2 linked regions of the Homo sapiens genome follow. The protein of the gene in region 2 purifies or fractionates together with the protein of the main gene of each other region. This does not show direct contact. Each region holds a gene or a part of one and is shown on either strand. Other genes may lie near its edges. The genes, in order: RDX and PLEK.

The links.
Region 1: the proteins of PLEK (region 2) and RDX purify together in Homo sapiens (co-immunoprecipitation; one study listed by IntAct). This does not show direct contact.

What each region holds. Positions count from the first base shown.
Region 1 is NC_000011.10:110,258,425-110,262,256, forward strand, and holds part of RDX (radixin), read right to left. Parts: intron 1-3,832. UniProt on the Homo sapiens protein: Probably plays a crucial role in the binding of the barbed end of actin filaments to the plasma membrane.
Region 2 is NC_000002.12:68,375,127-68,378,958, forward strand, and holds part of PLEK (pleckstrin), read left to right. Parts: intron 1-3,832. UniProt on the Homo sapiens protein: Major protein kinase C substrate of platelets.

The sequences.
Region 1 (3,832 bases), on a different chromosome or scaffold from region 2:
TGTACTGTAGTTACACAAGATGTTACCATCAGGGAATGCTGGGAGAAGGATACCAGGGATCTCTTTTTTTTACAACTGCATAATAATCAGTAATTATCTCAAAGTTAAGTGTCTAGGATCCTTAAATTCCTTGAAATAATACTTGCTCCATAAAGTGATTACAAAGATAGCTTATAGGAACCCAAACAGTTCAAAGGAATAAAACATTAGATAAAAAAATGGCTCATTGTTAATAGATAAAGACCAGACTGAAAACCAGAATTCTTGGGCCCTAATTCTTCCTTTATGTATTTACTTTTTTGCTACTAATTTTGTTGTTTTAGGTAGGTAATACTTTCAATTAAAAAGTAGAGTGAAAAGTCATACTCCAGTCCAATACCCCCCAAATAACTTGTTTTTGTATCCTTCCAGTGTTCTTAATTCAAATGTGAGCAAATACATTCTTTTTTTTTTTTTTTTTTTTTTGAGATGGAGTCTCGCTCTGTTGCCCAGGCTGGAGTGCAGTGGCACAATCTCGGTTCACTGCAACCTCTGCTTCCTGGGTTCAAGTGATTCTCCTGTCTCAACCTCCCAAGTAGCTGGGATTATAGGTGTGTGCCACGATGCTCTCGGCCTCCCGCGTAGCTGGGATTACAGGCGTGCGCCATAATGCCTGGCTAATTTTTCTTTTTTGTGTGTTTTTTTGGTATTTTTAGTAGAGACGGGGTTTCGCCATGTTGGCCAGGTTGGTCTTGAACTCCTGACCTCAAGTGATCCACCTGCCTCGACCTCCCAAAGTGCTGGGATTACAGGCGTGAGCTACCACGCCCAGCCAAATACAAACATTATATTCTACTACTACTATTTTAACACCAAATCAGCAAAGTCAACATGATTATAAGTTACCTACTATGCACACTACAGTTTGTGACTTCTATTCTCTTTGGCTCATATGATAATTATTCACCTTTATTTACCAGATCCTACTTTACTGACAGCAGAAGCTGTGGTGTTAAAATATTACTGTTTTACTATATAAAAAATCTTGCATGAAACCCAAGGATTTCTTGGCAGCATAAAGGAATGATAAAATCTCCCCCTGGATAAGTTACCTACTACTTAGAGTAAATTCCTTAAAGGGGTCTCAGACATACTGTTATGTTCTTATTATACTCTGCTCCTTTCTCTAGGCATCTTTTCCAAGCTCTTGCTTTTGGGGAGAAGAGTTTCATCTTCCTTCTGAGAGAGCTTAGGTTTCCACAGTTTCTTGTCTTTCTTGCTGTCTGGCCTCTGGGCTCACAGAGAGGCATGCAATCAGCCTTGGAGACATAACCCAGTGCAGTCAATTGCTTACCATAATTATATGCCCAATGCCAGTACTAAAGAGGGCCTCGAAAATTTGTAGAGTGAATAAATGAATTAATCAATTTTTCCCAACCCCTATTTTTTTTTCTTTTTCAGAGACAACTTTCTTTTATGGACTGTCCATTATACACTAACCTCAATTTCCATACCTGACATCCACTGCCCCCAGTCTACCATAATCTGGCTCAAACACCCAATACTCTATGGTAACTGTTCTTCTTTTTTTTTTTTTCTTTAGACAGAGTTTCGCTCTTGTTGCCTAGGCTGGAGTGCAATGGCATGATCTCGGCTCACTGCAAACTCCACCTCCCGGGTTCAAGCGATTCTCCTGCCTGAGCCTCTCCAGTAGCTAGGATTACAGGCATGCACCACCACGCCCGGCTAATTTTGTATTTTTAGTAGAGACGGGGTTTCTCCATGTTGGTCAGCCTGGTCTTGAACTCCCAGCCTCAGGTGATCCGCCCACCTCGGCCTCCCAAAGTGCTGGGATTACAGGTGTGAGCCACCACACCCGGCTGGAAACTGCTCTTCTAAGGTCACTACCAAGCTCCTTATTCCAACAGATACTTTAGTTCTCCTCATATTTGACCTCTTGGTACCATTTGGCAGTGCTGACCATTCTCTTCATCAAAGTATTCTTTTACCTTGGCTTCCATGATATAATACTCTTCTGGTATTATTCTTGTTTTCTGAGATGGAGTCTCGCTCTGTCGCCCAGGCTGGAGTGCAGTGGCGCCATCTTGGCTCACTGCAACCTCCGCCTCCCGGGTTCCAGTGATTCTCAGGTCTCAGATTCCCGAGTAGCTGGGATTACAAGCATGTGCCACCATGCCCAGCCATCTTCTAGTATAGAATTATTCTTGAATCTGTGGCCAGTGTCTCAGTACAGTTGTCCCTCCATATCCATAAAGGATTGCTTCCAGGACTCCCCTTGGATACCAAAAACTGTGGATGCTCAAGTCCCTGATATAAAATGGTGCAATATTTGCATATAACCTATGCACATCCTCTTGTATACTTTCAATCATCTCTAGGCTAATAATACTAATACACTATATTATTACTACTATGTAGTATAATAATACACTAATACACTACAAATGCTATGTATTGTTATCCTGTATTTTTAAAATTTTGTACCTTTTCATTGCTGTGTTATTTTTTTCACATATTTTCAATCTGTGGTTGGTTGACTCTGTGAATGCAGAACCCAAAGACAAAAGCTGAGGTCCAACAAGATCTGTCCTAGGTCTTTTTCTCATTTTTATGTACTTGGTAGGTTGATCTCTTTCATTCTCATGGTTTAATTACCATCTATTCACTGATTACTCCCAAAACTGTATCTATAGTCCAAGACTGTTTCTAAAAGGTCTGCACCCACATATGCAAATAAATACCAGATATCTCTCTTGGTTATATTGCACATATTTCAAACTCAATAGGTTCAAAACTGAATTCATCTTCCCCCTCAAATGTATTTTTTCTTCCACTCATTTTGATAAAAGGTATTACCAAATACCCAGCCGCCCAAGTCAGAAACCTGGTATGTAAAAGTTTATGTATATTTAGCTCTTTTCAAAGGGAAGCAATACTATCTGGTGGAGCTAATTATCTATACCACAAGAGCTAAACTTTTCTACAGTAAGAACAGATTGCTCATCTGGGTTTTTCAATACAAGAAATCAGAATGTATCAGAATCACTAAATTATTTTATTTGATTTGTTATCACCAAATAACCTAATTACTCATTTCCTCCCCAGACTGTACTTAGATACTGAGAAAAAGTGTCCGATATACCATACTGGAATAAGCCAATCACTGTGAAAATATCCTCTCTGTTCTAAACAGAAAATGAAAAAAAAATGGTATTCTAACTTTATGACTAAGTCTCATTTTAAGATAACATGGCTTGAATTAGTCCTCCATGGAATATCAACTCTGAAGGAACAACTGACCTACAAAATTAAGGAACAAATCTTGAAATAGGCATTTGCACTAGCAACCACAAGCAACCCTATCTAAAGCATTTAGCCACCTTCCTTCTTTTTAAATAGAGTAGGTTAGAGCACACCCATATTTAAAATAAACTGTGCTTGTGTGTTATTGTAGTGTTTAAGAGATTTTTTTCAATCACATGAGTTATGAAATGTAAGCCAATTACTTCATCTGCTGCTCAACCAAACAGCAATCTGGCTTAACACTGAAAGATCAATGCTGTACTTGTTTAGATAAAGCATTCCTATTCTTTAACATTTAAAAAAAAAATTAAAGTAATTCTGATTATAAAACAAAAGGTAATCCTTATATGAAATGAAATTCCACCATAATAGTCTGATTACTCAATTCAGTAATCTAAGATGAAGAATCTTAGGTTAGAATAACATTCAAAACCAGAATATAAACAGACTATCAGATATCTCATATTCCTGACTCTCTTGGTGAACAACTTACATAATTCTATCCTTTTCCAAGGTGACTACTATTGCT
Region 2 (3,832 bases):
TGGATGTGATATTCTGCACTCCTGCCAGCTATGTTTGGTACTTCCAGTTATTCTACCTCCTTGTCAAGTCTTATTCTTCTCTGACTTTGAAAATGCTAGGTACTCTAGCAGGTGTGTAGAGGTATCTCATTGTGATTTGAATCTGCATTTTCCTGATAAATAATGATGTTGAACACTTTTTCATAAGCATTTGGATGTTTTCTTTACTAAAGTGCCTGCTCGATACTTTTTGCTCATTTAAAAATAGGATTATTTGTACTTTTCTTATTGATTTGCAGGAGTTCTTTGTATTCTAGATATGTTTCAGTTGTAAAACAGAAAGGCATTTTACTGGAATTATTTCATGTGTTGGCACAGTGTCTGATCTTGCTCATTTTTAAAAGGGGAAATAATCCAGTGTTCGTCTGGAATAGTTATTCTGCCCATGCAGAAAAGAGATAGGGTATTTTAATTTAGAAAATTATTTTAGTAACTAGAACAAAGGAAATGTTTGGACAAGCAAAGTGATAGTCCCACAAGTATTTATCTTTGCATAAATAGTCTTCCTTTTGGTCAACTGGACCTTTATATAGAGGCCCTTTGTATTTTGAGATAAGCAGCAGGGTCTCTTGGGAACTGGATGATAATTCTATTTTGTGGTAGTCATGACAGGGTGATATCATGGGTTAAAGAATAGACCTTTGCCAAATTCTTCCAAAATATAGACCAGAAATAGAGACTTCCCTGTTTTAATCAGAATGGTCAACTTATTGCTAAAGGGGCAGCTGGCATGAACCCAAACTGAAAACATTTTAAGTAAGGATTTTTTTAAGGGCTACATTAATGTGGATAGCCTCATTCTGGCATTATAGACCTTTTGCAAGTGATTTTCATACAACTTAGCCATGCCTGCACACAAGGCTGCTGTCTGAGTTTCTTTTTGACATTCATATTCAGATAAAATCTGATTAGCCCAAGAGATGGAAGCAACTGCAGGGTGCATGCCACCACTTATGACTGCTTTGTCTATGGGAGACACGGCTGTTGGATCACAACACTTTTCCACTGAGTCCAGCCTCAAGCATCCACTACTACTCAGTCTGAATTGACACTTGAGATAGATTCTACTTGCCATTCTTGAGTTGAACTGAACTCAATGGGCAGGTTTGGGAGCAGAAAACAAACCACATAAAGTCAGCCTGAAATGTACCAGGGGAGCTTATGGGTTGACTGTCACTGTATATACATTTTATCTTAATTAAAAAAAATTCCAGTAGAATGACAGTCCTCCTTTCCCCTGAAGGCATCCTTCCTGCGCAGCCTTGTGCAAATGTGGACCACCTGCCTCCACACTGGCCAAAGCTGAGTTACATATTGTCCTGCAGAGGTCTATAGGATCATTTTAGGAAATATTGTCACACTTATTGTGTCTATTCTTATGTTAATCATTTCATTATGTCTTATTTATTCAGTCTTATCTATTAATAATGTGATCTTATTTTTAATTTTTAATTTTTAAAATTTAAATTTTTGTGGGTGCATAGTAGGTATATGTATTTATAGGGTACATGAGATGTTTTGATACAGGCATGCAATGAGTAATAATAACACCATGGAGAATGGGGTATCCATCCCCACTAAGCATTTATCCTTTGTGTTACAAACAATCCAATTACGCTCTTTTAGTTATTTTAAAATATACAATTAAGTTGGCAATAGTCACACTGTTGTGCTATGAAATCATAGGTCTCATTTATTCTTTCTGTTTTCTTGTTTTTGGTACCCATTAACCATCCCCACCTCCCTGCAGTCCCCCACTTCCCTTCCTGGCCTCTGGTAACCATCCTTCTACTCTCTGTGTCCATGAGTTCAGTTGTTTTGATTTTTAGATCTCACAGATATGTGAGAACATGTGATGTCTGTCTTTCTGTGCCTGGCTCATTTCACTCAACATAATGATCTTCGGGTCCATCCATGTTGTTGCAAATGACAGGACCTTCTTTTTTATGGCAAAGTAGCCCTCCATTGTGTATATGTACTACACTTTCTTTATCCACTCATCTGTTGAGGGACACTTAGGTTGCTTCCAAATCTTGTCTATTGTGAACAGTGCTGCAACCAACATGGGAGTGCAGATATCTCATCCATATACCGATTTCCTTTCTTTACAGTATATACCCCCCAGTGAGATTGCTGGGTCAAATCGTAGTTCTGTTTTTAGTTTTTTGAGGAACCTCCAAACTGTTCTTCATAGTGTTTGTACTAATTTACATTCCCACCAACAGTGTACAAGTATTGCCTTTTCTCCACATCCTCAAAAACATTTCTTATTGCCTGTTTTTTGGTTAAAAGCCATTTTGACTGAGATGAGCTGTTATCTCATTGTAGTTTTGATTTGCATTTCTCTGATGATCAGTGATGTTGAGCACCTTTTCATATGCACACTTGCCATTTGTATGTCTGCCTTTGAGACATGTCTATTCAAATATTTTGACCATTTTTTGAATGGTTTATTAGATTTTTTTCCTCTAGAGTTGTCTGAGCTCCTGATATATTCTGGCTATCAATCCTTTGTCAGATGGGTAGTTTGCAAATATTTTCTGTCATTCTGTGGGTTGTCTCTTCACTTCGTTGCCTGTTTCCTTTGCTGTGCAAAAGCTTTTTACCTTGATGTGATCACATTTGCTTATTTTTGCTTTGGTTGTCTGTGCTTATAGGGTATTGCTCAAGAAATTTTTGGCCAGACCAATGTCTTGTAGATTTTCCCCAATATTTTCTTACAGTCATAATGTGATTTTAATTACCACCGTTCATTCCACAAATTATTGATTGAACACCTGACAATATGATGGTGAAGTAAGTTCTTGCCCCCCTGGAACATATAGTTGGGTGGCAATAGTTGACAGAGTGATTTTACACACTTTATATATAAAACATGTGTATACATATGTATTTAAAGATATATACACTGTATAATGTATATGTACATTATTCACATATAAGCATATGGCATGCATTATACACTTATATATACATATTTTATACATGATCTAAATCTAAACTATGCTTTAAGATGGAATTATTATCTCTCTCTTAGCAAACAAAAAGCCATGGCTCAGAAATATTAAACATTTTACCCAAAGACATGTACAACTAATAAGTGGTTGACATGAGGCTCAAATGTAGGTTCGAGTTTTGACCCCAAATCATAGCATACACTGAAGTATCCTAAATACTTCAAGCATCATTGGATGACATGTCATACAATAATGGAGGAGGCCTGCAAGTCTGAGGCAGGCCGGATTCTTCACAATCCCAAACCTTATTCCACCAGAAGAGAAACCAAAGGGAAGTGTGTTTCCTCACAAATACATTCATGCAGATCCTCAGGGCCTTCAGCTTTCCCATTCATTACTCCACATGGCAACTGGCTAAATATTTTTGACTCTTCCTCATTGGGATGATACTGATACCAGTTCATTGTCATTTTTCCAAGAATAGAGAGGATGAAAACTCAAAGCATGGAAGACATTCATACATGGCCATCTGTCAAGATACTTAATAATACAACCTCTCATTTGTAGAGCACATTCGAACTTATAAAATCTTATCCAAATTATTTCATTTCATATGTTCTAGAAATCTCTGAGGTAGTCATTCTTATCATTTTAGTGCTGGGAACTGAGCCTTAGAGAGGGCAAGTGGCTTACACAAGTGTGGGCAGTAAGAAAGTCATAGAACCAGCTGGGCGCGATGGCTCACACCTGTAATCCCAGCACTCTGGGAGGCTGAGGCAGAAGGAACACGAGATCAGGAGTTCAAGACCAGCCTGGCCAACACGGTGAAACCCCGT